2 separate regions of the Homo sapiens genome follow, and region 2 is linked to region 1. Evidence: fine-mapped expression QTL. Tissue or cell type: cerebellar hemisphere. Region 1 holds a variant in brackets; the other region holds the start of a gene. All regions are shown on one strand. Distances are from middle to middle.

The links. PIP is the estimated chance that this variant, and not a neighbour inherited with it, causes the effect. A credible set is the group of variants that fine-mapping cannot tell apart.
Region 2: GLRA1 starts here. The variant in region 1 is the best candidate, but not a certain one, in a credible set for the expression of GLRA1 in cerebellar hemisphere (GTEx, PIP 0.53).

Annotation. Positions count from the first base shown.
Region 1 is chr5:152,369,073-152,379,942 of GRCh38, forward strand. It overlaps LOC105378237 (a long non-coding RNA gene), which reads left to right. Exons shown (of 3, transcript XR_944433.2): 2 at 6,031-6,141; 3 at 9,077-9,369. Among named protein-coding and RNA genes, the nearest start is that of NMUR2, 31 kb to the right of the region's middle. RefSeq lists enhancers at 1,098-1,267, 7,918-8,087 and a cis regulatory region at 8,003. The variant C/G (reference allele first, on the strand shown) is at 8,003.
Region 2 is chr5:151,922,270-151,929,655 of GRCh38, forward strand. It overlaps GLRA1 (glycine receptor alpha 1), which reads right to left and starts at 2,582. Exons shown (of 9, transcript NM_000171.4): 1 at 2,225-2,582. The coding sequence starts at 2,280. RefSeq lists a silencer at 2,862-3,074.

The DNA of each region.
Region 1 (10,870 bases):
TTGTAGCACTTTCCAAACTTATATGAATTTGAAATTCTATTTTTTTCTGGGCATATATTGCATGACTCCAGAGATGATGCCCTTAATTTGACAAAATGAAACAATGAAGCTCACTGAGAAAATGGTATCTTGCTAGGTTAATAATTTGATGAGGATCAAGGACTGAACTAAACACTTATTACTTTATTTTGTGGCTATGAATATATTTCAGTCACATCTGTCTTTGGCACATATCTTCACATATATCTCAGATAATCTTATAGTTAGTTACAAGCTCAGAGAAGCATAATGTAGATATTATCTGGCTTGAAAGATTCCAGTGATTCATGGTAGATGAATAGCTTTTCATCTAACTTAGGCTTTGAAAAATAGTGATTAAAAGTGATTATATATTAAATATAATTTTCTTCATATTTTGATGATGCAGCATTATACAATTTAATATTAAGGATAATAGTAACATAATTCTTATTATCCCTTACCTCCAGTGTCCATTGGCACTCATCCAATAAACATAATGGAGTTGGGGGACACTCATTGAAAACTATAAAGTAGTGAAGTGAACAAATTGAAGTAGTTGTGAAGCCCATCAATCTCACTGAGCTTTCATTGCCTTTAAAATGCATTCCCCTGACTCTTCTCACTTTCCTAAGGGTAATGGCACTGTTTTGTTACTCTGTTCACCTAAATAGAGCTGTACTAATGAGTGATTCTAAAAGGCTTTAAGATGGTTAATATAATTGGCCTCTCAATTAAATGCTTCTTTTCTTCTGAACCTCCACCAACTTATTCAAGCACTTCTGAAAGGCCATTGAAGTCATCCTTGAGGTCCCCAGGCTAAGTGGTTACAGAAATGGCAAGGTGTGTGCCTTTCTAGTACCTCACCCTCTGCTTGGTTTATGTCTTTTTATTGAAGTGGTAGGCAAGTTGAAAACATCACCAATGGATGGTTCTATTGGTGGACTGGTAAAATATCCAGATTATCAGTTTCTAATCATTTTGTGATCATGCGTTCTGTGGTGGGTTGAATAGTGCCTCCTAAAAAGAAATATCGAAATTTGTCTGAGCGCGGTGGCTCATACCTATAATCCTAGCACTTTGGGAGGCTGAGATGAGTGGATCACTTGAGGCCAGGAATTCGAGACTAGCCTGGCCAACGTAGTGAAACCCTGTCTCTACTAAAAATATAAAAATTAGCTGTGCATGGTGGTGCATGCCTGCAGTCCCTGCTACTCAGGAGGCTGAGGCATGAGAATCGTTTGGACCCCGGAGGTGGAGTTTGCAGTGAGCTGAGATTGTGCCATTGAATTCCAGCCTGGGAAGCAGAGTAAGACTCTCTCTCAAAAAAGAAAAAAAAAAAAAAGATAAAAGGAATATCCAAATGTTAACACTCAGCAATATTGAATATGACCTTACTTGGGGTCTTGGCAGATGCTATTAAGTTAATGATATCAAGATGAGATCATATTGGATCATCTGGGTAGTCCCTAAATCCAATGGCAAGTGTCCTCATAAAAGAAAAAGAGGAGCAGATACAGGAAGAAGAGAAGGGCATGTGAAGATGGAGGCAGAGGGTAGAGTTCTGTTGGAGAAAGTCAAATGCCTAGAGCAACAGGAGCTGGAAGATGTAAGTAAGAAAGGATTCTCCCCTAGACGCCTTGGAGGGAGCAGGGCCCAGCCAATACCTTGATCTTGAACTTCTCAAGTCCTCTTATTCTAGGACTATAAGATAATACATTTTTGTTGTTTTAAGCCATCACATTTGTGGTAATTTGGATATAACCTATGCACATCCTCCCGTATACTTTAAATAATCTCTACAATACTTCTAATACAATGTAAATGTTATGTAAATAGTTGTTACACTGTAATGTTTTATTTGTATTATTTTTATTGCTTTATTATTATTTTTAAGTTTTTAAAAAAATTTGAATATTTTCAACGCATGGTTGGTACAAAACCTGTGGATTAGGAGGGCCAGGACTGTGTTCAGAACTGGCCTTGCAGGTATTAGATACTTAACATAGAACTCTCATTGCAAGCCCTTTGGCAAATTGCTAATGTCAGAGAAGGCAAGAAATACCACTGGGGCATTTTTCAGAGCCCAAGGAGGCTTCACAATTAGACTAACAGCTTACAAGATAAGTTGAGTATAGCCAATTGAGAAGGATTGACCTAATTCTTCCTTCTTAATTACCTTAATTTTATGCATCCTGTAATTAATTGAATGACTTAGTGATTACAGCTGCTTTCTCTATGTTCAGCTAGGGATGAAAACAAGTTGCCATCAGAAACATAGGTGGATGGAGGAAAAGGAGAGATTAGGGAATGGGTCAGAGATAGGAGTCTGCACAAACTCTATGCTCCATAGTGATACAGAAATCACTGTGGTATTTTGCTTCTGAAGAATGTATATGTCTTCCTGGTAAGAGGAAAGGAAAGGGAATGCTCAGATTCTAGGACTAGAGTTTAACTTTGACATTTTGGGCCAGATATTATTGCAGGAGACAGCGGGGCTGTCACGTCCATTGTAGGATGTTTAGCAGTGTCTTTGCTCTGTCCACTAGATATCAGTTCTCCCACTAGATAACAGTCTCCACAAGTTATGACGAATAAAAATGTTTTCAGACATTGCCAAATATCCCCCTGGGGTCTTCCCTGAGAGAGAAGATCATCCCCAGATGAGAATAACTGGACTAGACTGTTGATGAGGTTAACCATTGGTTACAGGGCTGCTGTATGCAGCTACACAAGCTATGCAGTGACAATTTCACACAGCACCATTCTCACAGACTTCAATATTGTTGTGACAACTTATTTCAGATTTTTAAAAATATCTGCAACCCAAGGGTTTGGCCTTTAATGTTGAGGCTTTGTAGGCTAAGAACATGTACTTCTTAATTTAAATACAATGTAAAAATTTTGCAGAAGCTGTGTGCCCATCAGAATGTCTGATAACTTTAACTTCTTAGAAGATGAGCCACTGGGATCACATTGATCTCTGCCAGTGTTCTTGCCTTCCTCCCCACTATTGCCTAGACCTTATTACAGGTTGAGCATCCGAAATTCACAAAATAAATCTGAAACGCTCCAAAATTTAAAACTTTTTGAGTGCTAACATGATGTTCAAAGGAAATGCTTATTGTAGCATTTCGGATTTCAGATTTTCAGATTTGGGATACTCAATCAGTACAGTGCACATATTCCAAAATCTGAAAAAAATTTGAAATCTAAAACACTTCTGGCCCCAAACATTTCGATAAAGGAGTGCTCAACCTGTATCATCAGTAACTGTGTCACCTCTGAAATCTTTATTTCAAATATCTTACTCCCTGATTGCCAGCTTCTGTGCTCTTTGTCTTGATTCATCTAGTCCTCTCTCTACAACAATATTTTCACCCCAACTGGGTCTCCAATGCATTGACCTCATCATTTTACCCGACTATTCTTTTACCTACATTTGCCTTTTTACCCAGTTTAGACGCTCTTGTTCATCATGGTAATCATTCCCTTGTAAACATCCTCAATGACATTGCCTTTCTAGCCCTCTGATATGTTGGTATGGCTAAACCCAATTCAGATTGAATTTAATTATTTACCGTGTCTGAACCTGAATTTAAACAGATGAGCATTTGTACCCAAATGAAAAACACACATATGGTAGGGTGACCCATTGCAGCTTAATTTCAAGATGTCAGACTTCAAATGGACCTCACACTGCCTAGAATTTTCATCCTGGTAAGCATGGTTTCTCCTTGTCAGGACAATTCTTTCATACTTTACTCCCTCAGGTGTCTTACCATCCCTGTCCCCATATCTGATAACCTTGCCTGAACAAATAGAAGCAGGGGGGACTTTCTCATATACACATTATCAAATCCAGAACATACCTTTGTTTGGATCTATATTTATGTTTTCCATCTTTTCATTGCTTCTACCAAGGGTCAGTCTCCTGTGCTCTCGGTGCCAGAGACTGTAACTTCCTCAATGATTCACTTCTGTGGTTTCCCCTACCTCTGACAGCACAGTTTCTTCCTTTTAACCAAATTATTCCAATTGCATATGAATACACTGTGGGTTCTCACATTTTACATTGCCCTCCCATGATCCACATTCTACTTCTTCATCATCATATTTCTCTCTTCTTCTTCATAGTAAATAATCTTAAAGGAGTGTTCTGTATTCATTGCATCAGGTTCCCTGTCTTCCACTGTTTCTTTAATCTACTCCAATCTTGCTTTTACCATCATTACTTCTCCAAAACCTTTTCTGTGCATGATAATCCTGTTGCCAAAACAGGTGGACATTTCTTTGAACTCTTTTTTTCACCATTTACTATTGACCTCTTCTTGAAGCTGTTCTTTTGTTTTCTAGAATACCACTCTCTCTTAATATTCCTCTTGCCTCTTTAATCATCCTTTTTTGTCTTTTTGTTTACTGTTTCTTTCTTCTCAATCCTACCTTTAGTTCTTAGACTTCTCTACCTGTTGGTTCTGGATGATCTTCTCTGTCTACACATTCACATACAGTGACCTCATTCACTCCATGACTTTAAATGCCAAATGGACAAAGATGGCCCTGAAATTTATAACTACAATACTATATTCTTTCCTGTGTTCCAGATTTATATATCCAGCTGACTCTTTACTATCTCTAATTGGATATATTATAGGTATGTCAAATTCACGTTTTCAAAACAATGTTTTAAAATTTCTCTTTTTTCTTCTTTCAGGTTCCTCTTCAACACTTTCTCATCTTAGTAATTGACACCCTCAACCCACTCAGCTACTCAACCCAAGAACCCAGAAGTCAACCTTGATTTGTTACTTACTTTCATTCCCTGCATATAATTCTTCAGCATGACATTTCATTCTGTTTCTGAAATATATCTTCTTTCCCTTGTCAAAAGGGACCAATACCAGACATTTATTAAAGTTGGCAAGACAGATTTTATTCAGACTACTTCAACAGGGGAGAGAGACACAGTATACACTGAGCTCAACTCCAGCTAAGACAAATGTGACAGAGGGTTTTAAAGGGAAAACAGAGAAAACACAAAGGAGCTCTGGGGAAGTAAAAAGGAGGAAATAAAAAAAAAGATTAAGGGAGCTGTGGAGCAATAGAAAATTACAGAGGGCAGTACGTGAAGAATTACTGAAAATGGTTTGGGATTGTGGGTTGGAACAATGTATATTTCATGGTTTGGTGGCATTGTGTGTCACCTTAAGGGACATGGTATAGTGCAGGTGGCAGCCAGGCTAAAGTTTGGTCACGTCTCTTAGCACAATGTTTAGGCAAATCCTTTGTGCTGTGTGGAAGTTCATACCCTCTTCACTGTTACCACCTTGTCTGTCATCTGTCATCTGATCTTTTGAAAGGGCCTCTTCAGTGGTCTCCTTGCACCTATTTTTGCCCGATATAAACAAAATTGTGTGTTAATTATGGAAATGCAAGTCAAAACCACAATGATGTACCACTTCACACCCACTAGAATGGCTATAATAACAAATAAAAATAAAGACATAACAAGTATTGGTGAGGATGTGGAGAAATTGGAAACTTTATACATTGCTGGTGGGAGTTAAATGATATAGCTACTTGGAAAACGTCTCAGCAGTTTCTTAAACATAGAGTTACCATATGACCCAGCAATTTCATTCCTAGATAACTACCCAAGAGAAAGAAAACATGTGTTCACACACACACACAGAGTACCCAAATGTTATTGTCTGTTTACTATGGATCACAGAGGGGCTCTGTTTATTGCAGTCACTCAGGGATCTAGGATGATGAAGCTGCCATTGATCTCAACAATTGTTAGTTGTTATGCTACAGGGAAAACATCCTCTGGCAGATCTTGTATCAGCAGTTGATACTCATTACTTCTACTTATAATTTAGAGGCTAGAACTAGTCATGTGTCCCCATCTAATTCAAGAACAAGGAAGAGCAATCCTACATTGTGCCTGTGAGGTAGGAAACCAGAAATAGTCAGTGAACATGTGAATGACTGTTCACTTCCCCACTCCAGGGCCTGCGACCTTGCTGTTCTCTCATCTTGGTATGATGTTCCTTCACCTCTGCACAGAGCTGGCTCCTTTTCATCCTTTGGTTCTAGAATTTCCCTTAGAGAACTTCTGTGGTAAGTCATTTCCAAGCAGTGCCTTAATTTTCTCCCCATTTCTTTTGAGCTCTTTATCCCATCCTCCAATATGTTATTATAATCCTGCTTATGTCATAATCTAAAATTATTTGTATATTTCTTTGCTTATTTTTTATTGACTATTCTCCTTAGAATGTAAACTTTTTGAGGTTGTAATTTGTATTCTTCTCGTATTCAATTCCTGAATCTCCAACATTTAAAACAATGCCTAGCAAGCTCATAATAGAAAATCAATAAATATTCATTAAATAAATGAATGAAGATGCTTTCTTACCTTTCTAGCATTTTTCATGCTGTTCCTTCTTCCTTTCTCAGACAAAATACTATGCATTATCTAATGTTCTAAGCTTAATGTCATCCTCTCCATAAACCCTTCCCCTAGTCATAGGGGTAATTTTGAAGTGAACCATGCTCTCATAAAATTTTACTTATTCCTTTTTGGATACCAGATACTCTGTCTTGCATCTTTGTAGTTGTATGCATGACTCTCCACCATTTCCTATTCCACATCTTGGATTAGATTTATATAGCCTTAATACAAAGTATTATACCTTACGAATGTTTTATGTCCCAGTACCAAGCCTATTCAACAAATATCTACCAACCAACTGTGTTCTAGGAAATATTCTAAATGCTGGGGATACAGTAGTGAAGAGCCCTGGGGGCACTTATTTTCTACAGAGGCACACAGAACAACAAACAGATAAATATATAACTAGAAGTGATAAGCACTTTGAATAAAATTAAAGTAGGATAAATGGGACAGACAGTGAAGAAGGAGTGGTTAATTTAAAAATGTTGGTCAGAGAAAGTTTTTCTGAGATGTGATACTTGAATAGAGCTCTGCATGAAATGAAGATGCAAGCCATCCATGCACCTGGGAGAAATATGTTACAGGTAAGCTCAACAGCAAGTGCAAAGGCCGTGATAAATAAGCCAGAAGTAGCCTAGTGTAACTCATATGCAGTGGGATGGGGGAGAAGGCAGAGGGTTGTTGGGACCACATTTTACATTGTAGGCCATGCAGTGGGTCTGGGTTTTGTTTTAAATATGTTGGCATGCCATTAGTAGATTTTGAACAGATTAAGGTGGTTTAAAGCATCAAATCAACCAGGAGGGTCTCCTCCGTGGAGAACAGTCAGAAGTGGGGGCAGCAAGAGTGGAATAAAAAAATAAAAACCGGTTAAGAAGCTATTTGATAGACCAGGTGGGAGAAGAAGGTAGCTTGGATTAGAGTGTAGTGCAGAAATGTTTGAGAAGTGGTCAGAAGGTGAGAGTGGTATTCAGGGAGTCAAGAAAGAAAGTGTTTCAATAGAGAGGAGAATTTTAAAAAATCAATGCTGCTGAGAAGTTGAACAAGAAGAGGATAAATAATTGATACCTGGAGGTCATTGGTGAGCTTGATGAGAGTGGCTTTCCTGGAGCAATGGAAAGAAAAGCCTGAGTGAAGTGATTCCAAGAAAAGGTGGAATATGAGGATGTGGAGACAGAGAATATAGATTGATGCAATTTTGCTAGTAAAAAAGAAGCATATACATGAGAGGGGATTATAAGGATTATAACGTGAAATGAATAATTACTTAAAGTATTAACATATTATTTTTAAAACAACACACAAAAGATAGGAAGAAATTGACTTATTATTCTCCTCTCTCCATTCCATTAACTTCTCCCTATGCTCAGGGAAAAGAAAGACCTTCTGTATGGATGGGGACAAAATGGACTCTGGGGAGACCAGCCAGGCCACTTTGCTTAAAGTAAAGGCTCTAGAGGGAGGCACGGGGGAAAAACAGTAGAAACACACTGGGGCAAAGGCTCTCTCGTCCGTTTTAGGATCTCT[C/G]TCTCTCTGTCTTGCCTATCCTTTCTTGGCCCTGACATTGTTTTCTCCCATTTTGGGTTTCTGCCTAGTGCTTCTGAATTTTAATTTCCCGAAAGCCAGTTGTCCTGGCAAGAATGCCTTGTTGCAGATGGAAAAGGTGGGGGTAATCAAAATAATGAAAATGAAAGCTATAACAAAGTCTAATTGTTTTATATTAAAAAGATGAATCAATTCTGTTTTTTACCTCCAATATTTTTCCTCATCAAAGAAATAAGGCTTTAAAAATGGAATCAGGTTGTGGACCTAGAAGAAAAAACGACAGAAAAACAAAAAGCAAACAAAAAATCACTTGACTGTTTTTAGTGTATACCAGGGGTCAGCAAACTACAACCCACAGGCCAATCTGTTTTTGTAAATAAAGTTTTGTAAATCTGCCATCTGTTTTTGTAAATAAAGCTTTATTGGAACACAGCCATGCTTATTTATTTTCATATTGTCAATGCCTGCTTTTGTGCTACAATGTCAGCACTGAGTAGTTGTGACAGAAAGTATATGGCTGTAAAAGCCTAAGATATTTGCTATCTAGCTCTCTATAGAAAATGTTTGCTAACTTCCTCATTTACACTAACATTTCCCAAAATGTGCCCTCAGTGACATTACCTCAGTGGGGTACCATGAGCACACAGGATTGGAAAATTTCAAATTAAGTGAGGGTAAGCAAATTTATTCAATGTGTAGGACTCATGGAGGCTTACATGTGCCACTATGAATTATGAGTCTCTAAAAGGAAGGTAAAGTGTTCTTTGTAGGCTTAAAGATAAGATCTTAGGGCAATTAGGAGGGGAATTTAGTTCTGAATTCTAAAAATGCCTAGATCCTGGCCTGGAAGACACCTCTTCTTTTCATAGAATTCTGGATAAGTAAAATCTATAAGGAAAAACCATTTTATTAATAGTTCTTCAAGTAGCCAATGCCCCAATATAGGGCTCCCCTGTAAATGATAATGTTAAAACACATAATATGTAATTTAAGGCATACAAGGGGCTTCCTATCTTCCCCTGGTTTAAGTCTTTAAATATTACTATCTCATGCCAGGCTCATGGATAAAGGAAGCTGAGTAAATGGATGGAGAGCAATATGGCAGAGGTCTTCACCGGCCTTGGTCTAACTTATGTATCTGGAGGAGAGAGAAAGAAGAGACAACAATCAGCCACATCTGCACAGAAACAGCTGTGTAAATGGATGTGTGGGAGAGCACTGCAGCCTTGTTTATGCTTTTAAGACACAGTGATTGCATCGAATCATCATTACAGTCCAGTCACTATCCCAAAACTCTGAATAATATGATATGTAATTCTTCCTTCTTTACTGCTGACAGACAATTAAAAGGCATGAGCAAAAGTAACAGGCACAGTAACAGGATGCTGTAGTACATTCTTTCCCTACAGTTTGCTGACGTTCCCTAACTTATCTGAATTCAATATCCTTTGTTTTTCACAGAACTCATAGTGAGACCAATCTTCTGGAAACAACCCACTCGATTTTTAGTGGGCATAAGAATTTACTGGAGATTTTTGATTAATACTAATTCCCATCACAGTACTCCAGCTGAAAGATTGCATTTCAGCAGACTCAGGAGCCTGCATTTTTTTTTTTAAACTCCCACTTGGTTCACAAACAGGTAGTCCACTGGTCATAATTTGAGAAACAATGGTCTCAACGTTAGCTGGAGAAGCAAAAGGAGTCCTTAAGCTGTTGCGTAGTTCTGCCCTACTCAGTAGAAAAGGCTGGAGTAAAACTCCAGGCTGATAACTACGCTTGAGTTAAATCATGCTACCTATCATCTTTGGAAACCTCTGACACAGATAAGGAGTTGGCCTAGACTTTTAGTTTGAAATTTTGGCAAACTGAACTCTCTGAGACATGACTCATAAACCAGATCTAGAAAACCTGGAGAGTCTGAAAGATTGTAGGGGCCCTTTGTGTGTCAGAATTGATTGAATCATTTACATAAGGAAACAATAGTTGGAGGACTTTTTAGGGTTACACTCAAGAAAGATTAAAATTCAGTTTTCTGTGTTATTTAAATATGCTGTCTGGAAATTTATAGTATCTCCCTTTTTGTAAGTCACTGATAACATTAAGAATGGTATAGATGACATGAAAGATCTTGCATGGTTTGCAGGCAGTTTTCAAGAGAAATAAAGACTTATGAGAACAACTCAAATTAAGCTGTCTGAAAAGGGAATGAGCTGCCTTGGTAGCCAGCAAACTTACATAATGAAAAAATGTACAAGCATAAGATAGATTGTAGAGGGAATTCAAATATCTCACCAGTTCTAAGGTTCTATATTTTAAAGTTCTAAATTTTAAAATTCTTACCAGCTCTGAGATTCTGAGTCTGTTATATAATCATTTCATACCTGTTTTTTGGATGACAATGCCAATTTTACATTTTATTTCAGTAAATATAACTTACATGTCCACTTGGGGGTAGTAAAGTATTTTTTCAATATCTCTAGGGAGTCTTCAGCATTTCCTTTGCACATCCATTAGATGCAAGTAAAAATAGTACCAACGAGATGTTGTACTATTTCTTTCAGTTTGTAAATTACAGTTTCTTCCGGTGCATACGTAAACACAGTAGAAATTATGGGCAATCAGGTTTTATTTTATTTTTCTATTTTTTCTTTTTCTGCAATGCCCAGAGAATTAAAGACATACAAATTAAAGTGGTTTTATCAGCAGCAAATATGCCCAGAGTAGGTCCAGGCTGAATGACATTAAAGTTAATTCTACAATGGTCCCATTACATTTAATTTAATTTAATTCAAAATAAAACAGTCCCAAGGTGGCTTGAAAGTTTCTGTGTTGTAAAGATATGCCAAT
Region 2 (7,386 bases), 450 kb before region 1:
CTAATAAGTCCTCACATTATAATGCTTCTGTATTTTCACCTGGAATTTTAAAAGTGAGTGACTTAGAAATGAAAATACCAATTGAACAAATACAATCTGCTCACTTTGCTTCCTTGTGACCTTTTTTTAATCTCTCTGAAAAATTGCTGAATTTCCTGAGTTCAATTATTGTCTGTATTGTGTTTCAAAAATCAACATTTACTCCCCTAATGAAGTAGCCGTTCCTATATTTTGAAAGTGCAGTGGTGCCACCCACATTTCCAGCTCTCCACAGTTATAACTCTTCTTTCCTTATAAACACGTAGAATTATATCCCACATCCATTGTAGCTCATGTGTGCGTTCACGCACGTAGGGGAAAGAGATGTAGAATGATGTTTTCTGTTAGGCCACCACCAGCTTAGTTGAAGAATTAACACAGTGGATTCATAACCTTATCAAAATGACTACAATCCAGACCTTTTAGACTGAGTCTCCCTTTTGTGAAAGACAATGTCTGGAGAGGAAAATCAAGCATTGCATACTGCTCATCAAGAAAAAAAGAGAGAGTGTGTGTGGGGAGAAAGATGTGCTTGGTTCTATTAATTTGCTCTTAAATCTCTCTGGTTCAGTTCTGTCTCCTGTAGACCAAGCAGAGAATCAATTTGCATACAAATGTTACAAAGTACCCAACCTCCATACATTTGTAGTTCTATTAAATATGCAGGGGATAAAGGATCTCATATTATAAATAGAATACTTCCTGCCCTTTCCCCCATAAAGTAGCCACATTTTGATACGTTTCATAAGGCCCTGGATTGTTGTACTTTTTCATTCTATCTGACTCTCTGACTATTTGCAGTCTGATCTGTGGTCAGGACTCTGTGGCCTACAAAATAATTGTTTGAACAGGAGATTAGAAGCTTTAGCATTGGGTATCTCAGATAAGGGGGGATGCCTTTTCTTCATCTCAAGAGACATGAAAAGAGACTGAAATACAGAAACTTACTATTTGAGGGGAGGTGTCATTTAATAAACCAGCCAACAGATTAGTCAAATCAGCAATTCCTATGAACTGTAATAAAACAAAAATTATTTGCTGTTTTATGTTGGGAGAGGGTAATATTTGGTGACCACTTATTTTTAAAAACAATTTGGGGTGGGTTTTTCAAATGACTGTTAATCCAATGCCACAGTAAAATATGAGAGGCAGGCATCTAAAATGAGGAAGATTAATGATCCCTGCATGTCATGGAAGAAGAATAATGTTTTTCAATTCATATAAGTGGAATTTATCATAGCCATCTCTGAAGATGGTATGATTCACACACTTACTAAAGGACTATCTATTTCAATGCTTCTTAAAGAGGTGATTTTTCACTTTTCACTTCTACTAACATAAGAAAGACAAGTCTTCAGGCAGAAAATTTTAACCTGAGAGACAGTGGATGGGATAACTCAGCTGTTGAGTCAAATATAAGCATAAATTTAAAAACAAAGCAAATGAAGATTGCTCATGAGTTCAGGATCTGCAGCTAACAGAGTTTGGAAAGGTGGGTTGGGGAAAGAGGCAGTCAAAGTTTCAAAAGGGAAATGTTTCCCAGTATGTTCCTAAATAGATCCACTCTGCACCCAAGTTCAGGGCTTTACACACTGAGGTTATAATACTATTGTTTCCAAGCACTCAGCCTTAGTAATCCCCCTCCCTCTTCGCAGAAAAAGAAAACAACAGCAAAAAAGGACAGAAAATGAAATGATCTGTGTCCAGCGAGTTTGAGTGCAACCTTCCCCGTCACCGCTAGTTGTCACTTGGCTCCCAGACGGGAAAGCTGAGGTTTTCGGCACTGCGGTTAGGGAGAATGCAGTCCTAATTAAACTGAGTAACTCCTAAAGCTTCCCTTTAAAGTCCTCAGCCGAGTGAAAGCCAACATGCAGTGGGGCTGGGGACCAATAGTGGGGGGTGTAGCAGACAGAAGGACAAACAAACCGTAAGAAACAGGCAAACAGCTGCCAGAACAGCGACTGTCTCAGACCTCCACGCACAAGCCAGACACCCTGCGGGCGGGGGTGGGGTGGGTGGCGGGGGGTGGGAGGGGGGAGAAGGGAGACGGGGGATGGAAGGACCCGATTGCAGTGGAATACAGCACCCCTCTTCCCCAAAATGATGGGACCACGGACAGAGGTAGCCTCCGTACTCTTTCCCCCCATTTCCATCAGAGCGATGTGGTCAGTAGAAAATTGCATACCTGAAGAATACAATGGTCTCCCAAAGGTAGAGTCGAAGAGTATTGAAGCTGTACATTTTTCAGGTCCTTGTGCTTTGTAGTCCACGAGTTATGGGGGCAAAAATGTTTCAAATTGGCACTTACAAAACCAGAAAGCGCTATTGCAAAAAATAATCCAGATGTTAAAGGGAGGCGGGGAACAGGGGCGCGGAGGGAGAGCCCCAGGGGAAATTGGAGCGAGGGGGTCGTAGATACCACGGACAGCGGCGGCTGCGAGGCGTTTCAGCACCACGGAGAGCGTCCAGACCTGCTTTTCAGGAGCGCGAAGAGTATTGCTGTTTGTTAAACTCCAGCGTGTCTGTTGGCTCCCTGCGGCGCTGGGGAGGCACGTTTGGGGGTGGGTATATTTCCTTTTTTTTTTTTTTTTTTTTAAACCCCTGTTTTTCTGTTTAAACGGCCAGCTCCCTGCAAGGAAAAAAATCTTCTGTGGAGATCAGAGCGCTGGCCTCGGACCGTTGGATTGGGCGAGCATCTTGGGTAAAGAGAACAGAGCTTTATGGCTCTGGGCCGGCCTGAGGGGGTTAGGGGCGAGGGGAAAGCGGTTGACGGCGCTGCCTTCAGTTAAATCTCGGAGAGTGTGCCAGGCTGGCGCATCGCAATCCAGTCTCGGAATCTCGTTCTCCTGCCTCTGTGCGGGTCTGCTGTCGCCTTGCTATTCCTGTTTCCCGGTCCCCGCCGAATAAGTTGTGATCACTGCAGAAAAGGTGTCCCATTGCTCGGGGCCGCAGGCGTCAGAGAGCCCAGGGCAAGTTTCAGGGGCTACCGGGGTCCCTGGCTACCCCGCGGGGCTCTGAAGCCCAATGTCTCAGATGCATCTCGGTTTTCTGAGCTCGCTCATCTTCCCTTGGTCAAGACTCCTTCAGATCTTCAGACTTTCTTACTGCATTAATTTAACAAACTGGAGGCGTGGGGGATGGGAGGGGTGATAGCCGATGGGAGGGGGTTGAGGGGGAAAAAAAAAGGGGGAAAACTCCTTAGTATCTTCAAACCCTCCCACTCGAGGTGTTCATTGGCCCGCGGCTACGAAAACCAGATCTTCTCCCGGTATTCGGCCAATAGCCTGTTAGACTCCGGGTTGAATTTAACGCTTAGAGTGCTGGACGAGATCTGCGCAATCCCCTTCCTACCCCCAAGCTTCTTTCCGTGTAAGCGGTGGGGTGAGAGAGGATATGGAATTAATCTCTCTAGGTCTCTCAAAAGGTTGCCTTGATTTTTAAAGAATGCAGTTGTATGTGAGTAAAACACATGGTTCCTTGTTAAGACGTGCTCTGGGCTCAATTTATCCTTTTAAAAGGGAAGAGTTGAACCAGATCCCTGATTTTTTTTAAAAGAGCTCTGAAGTTATAATATTTGGCCCTAGAAAGAAAGGAGGAATATCCAAAAAGAAGTCTGGTGGATAAAGACCCCCTCCAGGGTCACCGCAGCAGGGAAATACGAGAGAAATTCTTTGAGCAGTTTCCAGCGTTGAGTGGGAGGTGTTGTGGCTGGCACCCTTTTGAGAGGGAATAAAAGCACCTTCTTCCAACTGGACAGGAGACAGTTTTATTCGCCTTTTATATGCTGGGGAAACTGAGCCTCACAGAGCTGTGGCTTGCTCCAAATTGATGGCAGAGCCAAGTTGTACACACAGGGATGTGTTATGACTCACATTTCGTTATTTCTTCCTCTGTTTTCCCACCTTATTTGAATCTTAGAAACCAGCTATACATTTCACTGTAAAGCCCATCTGGTGAGATGGAGTTAATCAGATTTTCCCCAAGCTGTGGGACTATAGGATAAATACTTTAAAGGATTTTCTGGCTGATTTGAACTCATTGGGACTCTGGGGACTCTCTCGCCCAAGGCTACTGAGAGAGGACAACCCCTCCTCCTTACCCAATAACGTTAGAAACTCCTTTGGCTGATCTCCCAAGAATACTCATCAGCTCAGCTCCCTCCAAGGCTAGGCCTTCTCCCAAGCAGAAAGGATCTGAAAAGTCTTGTTTACTAGCCTCTTACCAGTAGGATTTCCCCTCCCCTCCCCCTGTACTACAATAGCATACCCCACACTACCGGTTCTGTTATTGGCTCCCACAGTCTAGAATTTCCATGATATTCTGCATAGTGACTGAAAAGGAAATTTTGTTTTGAAGGTGTATATTAATATGAGTTGGATACAAATTTAAATATAATGTATAATATATGTATTTTTATATATGTAATCAAGAGCTAACCTTTATTAGCATGGTTTCTATGTGTCAGAAATTACTGTGAATTCACATAATCTCATTTACTTTTCACAGTCAAACCTTGAGGTAAGTATTATCTTTGCGTATGTGTTTGTGTACATTTGTGAGTATGCTAGGGCAAAACCAGCTTGTAGGTTACTGTGTATACAAATTTATTTATGATTTGTATCGTGCCTAATTCTGAAGTGATTTTGATATGCATATGTGTATTTGTACGTTTGTATTTGTAAATGGGTCTTTCTCTACATACACATAGATGTGTATGTATCTATGTGTGTCTTTGTGGTGGTCCTAGAAGTACTGAAACAAGCCGTAAGCTGGCAATTTTGTCCTGGTTCCTCATCTGACTAGGAAATACCTGCATAGCCAGGTGTGATGCAGTATGTGGAAATTTGTTTTTCTTTTCCTTCAAGGGGTGCTGAGTGTGTGTTGCTGTTCATGAGTGTGAGTGGCTCCAAGGCTGTGGCCTGTGCAGGAGGTAAGAGTAATTATTACCTGGGGTGGTGGAGGGGCACCTGTTTGTTAATAGGCCTCTGTTTACTATGAGGCTGATACTTTCATTTAATCAGTACACATGAAATGAGCATGTGCCAAGTATTGGGGATATGACAGTATATAAGATAAACAACACAGTATATACTGATAGTGTATAAAATAAACAGTATATAAGATAAACTTTTGGAACATGCAGTTGCTTCAGAAGTTCAGTGGGAAGAGTCCCTCATGTTAATCTACACTTTTTACCCTACATATCACATATTTATGCCTGTACAGATCTTTTTGTTCTTGTTTAGGTCACTATTGAAAATAAACAACTGTGGGCTTGGCCGTCAGGGATTTATGTCCTTATTTTATCTCTGCTTCAAAAAGGTTGGTTATGTTGGATAAATGACTAAACTCCAGGCCTAAGTGAAATGAGGGTAGTAATGCCACTTTTCTCACTGCAAGAAACTGCATAGAATAAATATTTAAGTCTAACCTTATTGTAGCTTACCATGCTATGAAACAAAAATCTTCAAGGAATGGAATGGATTGGCTTCAGCTAATGGCTCATTTCTATTGGTAACTTTTCTGTGTAGTCTGACTCCAGCGTAGTTCTAATACTTGACTGGTCTCTTATAGATCCTAGTAGCCAGATTTGAGCCCTACTAAGTATGAATAAATTTTGACACACGGTGAGACTTATTTTATTACTAGAAAAGATTCATTATTTTATTCATTCAACAAACATTTATTGAGCATTTACTGTGTATCTGGTACTATTCTTGGCACTGGGGATATAGCAGGGAACAAAACAAGCCAAGAGCCCTATTCTAAAGGTATGCATCTTCTATTGGAGGAAAACAAGACAAACAAGGAAATATATGATGAGTTAGGCAGTCATAAGAACTAAAAAGAAAAAGGCAGGGCAGAGAGTGGCATGGAGGTGCTATTTTATGTAAGGTGATCATATCAGAGAATGGCTCCTGAAAAGGCATTTATGTAATTGAAGGAAGTGAAGGAATGAGTCATGTGAACCTTGGGGGCAGGTATGGAAAGCTTTCTAAGCAGTGGGAAAAGCAAATGTAAAAGCCCGGAGAGGGGAGTATGTTTGGAGTGTACAAGAAACAGCATGGAGACCAGTGTGCCTGGACAGAGTGAGTGCAGGGAACAGTGATAGAAGATGAGATTAGAGAGGAAGTTGGGGACTAGAGCAGGTACTACCTCCAAGAATAAAATTTCTGGGATGGCAGGAGCAAAATGAAAGCAGGGAGACTAGTTAGGAGCTACTGAAAAAGTCCATGTGAGAAATTCTTTAAGATAGTCTTGTTCAACATTTCGAGTACAGAAGAGGAAAATTATATACAGAGAGGTTAATAGACTTACCCCTTAGACTCATAGCGCAGCTGGGACAAGAACACAAGCACCCTAATTATAGCTAAAGGGTGTTTCAACTATTTTTTTGTTTGTTTCAATTAAGATAAAGGAAATGCAGAAAGAAAGTCAGGAAAATCTATGAGGGAAGAGAGTTTACCCGTTTTTATTACTAATATATACTGATATATATCACATATCAGTATCAGATACTAAGGGCTCAGTAAATATTTATTGCAAGGATGAATGAGTGAATAAACAAAAGAACAAAAAGATTCAGGCAGAGGACACAAATACAGGGGAAAGAGAGTAAGGAATGTTGTTAATCAGCTGAGATTATGTTGTCCTGAGCCAGCTAATGTAATTAATATAATGCCAAGCCTCTGTCCATAATGGCATTCACAGAGGAGAGTGCTGTATGTTTCAACACTGCTTTGACAGGCCTGAAAGATACTTTGCAAAGACAGATAGATATTTGGAACAACTGAGCAGCTTGCCTAATTGTGCTGTAGTATGATGAATAAAGGCCTGAAAATGGGACTGTGGAAGAGTCTTTTCTCCAAAGAATTAGAGGCTTGCTGCCAGCTCTTTCTAATCCTTCTAATCCTAATCCAGAATGCTCTTGTTACTTTTTTTTTTTTTTTTTTTTACAAAGCAATTACCTGTTCTTTATCCTTTAAAGAAGGGACCCCAGAACTACTTGGGGGATCTCAGTGACACCAGAATTTTAGTTGTAAAGAATAGATGCATAAAATACTAAGAGACCTTTCCTCCCATTTCACTAGCTATTCAAGGTCCAGGAAAGGGGGAACGACTGGCTTAAGATACCACAACAAAACTGAATCTAGATTGGAGGACTCCTATCTTTCAGGTCATGGTTCCCTACCCTTTTTTCTGTGAGACCTAAAATAACAGAAGTGGAGCTAAGATCTGTGATGAAAAATGCTTCATATCAAAGCTGACCTGCTCAGAGACCAGAGACTCCCCAATTTTCTTTTGTAGCCAAGTCTATACTTGTACTTGGTGCTCTAACAGCTTACT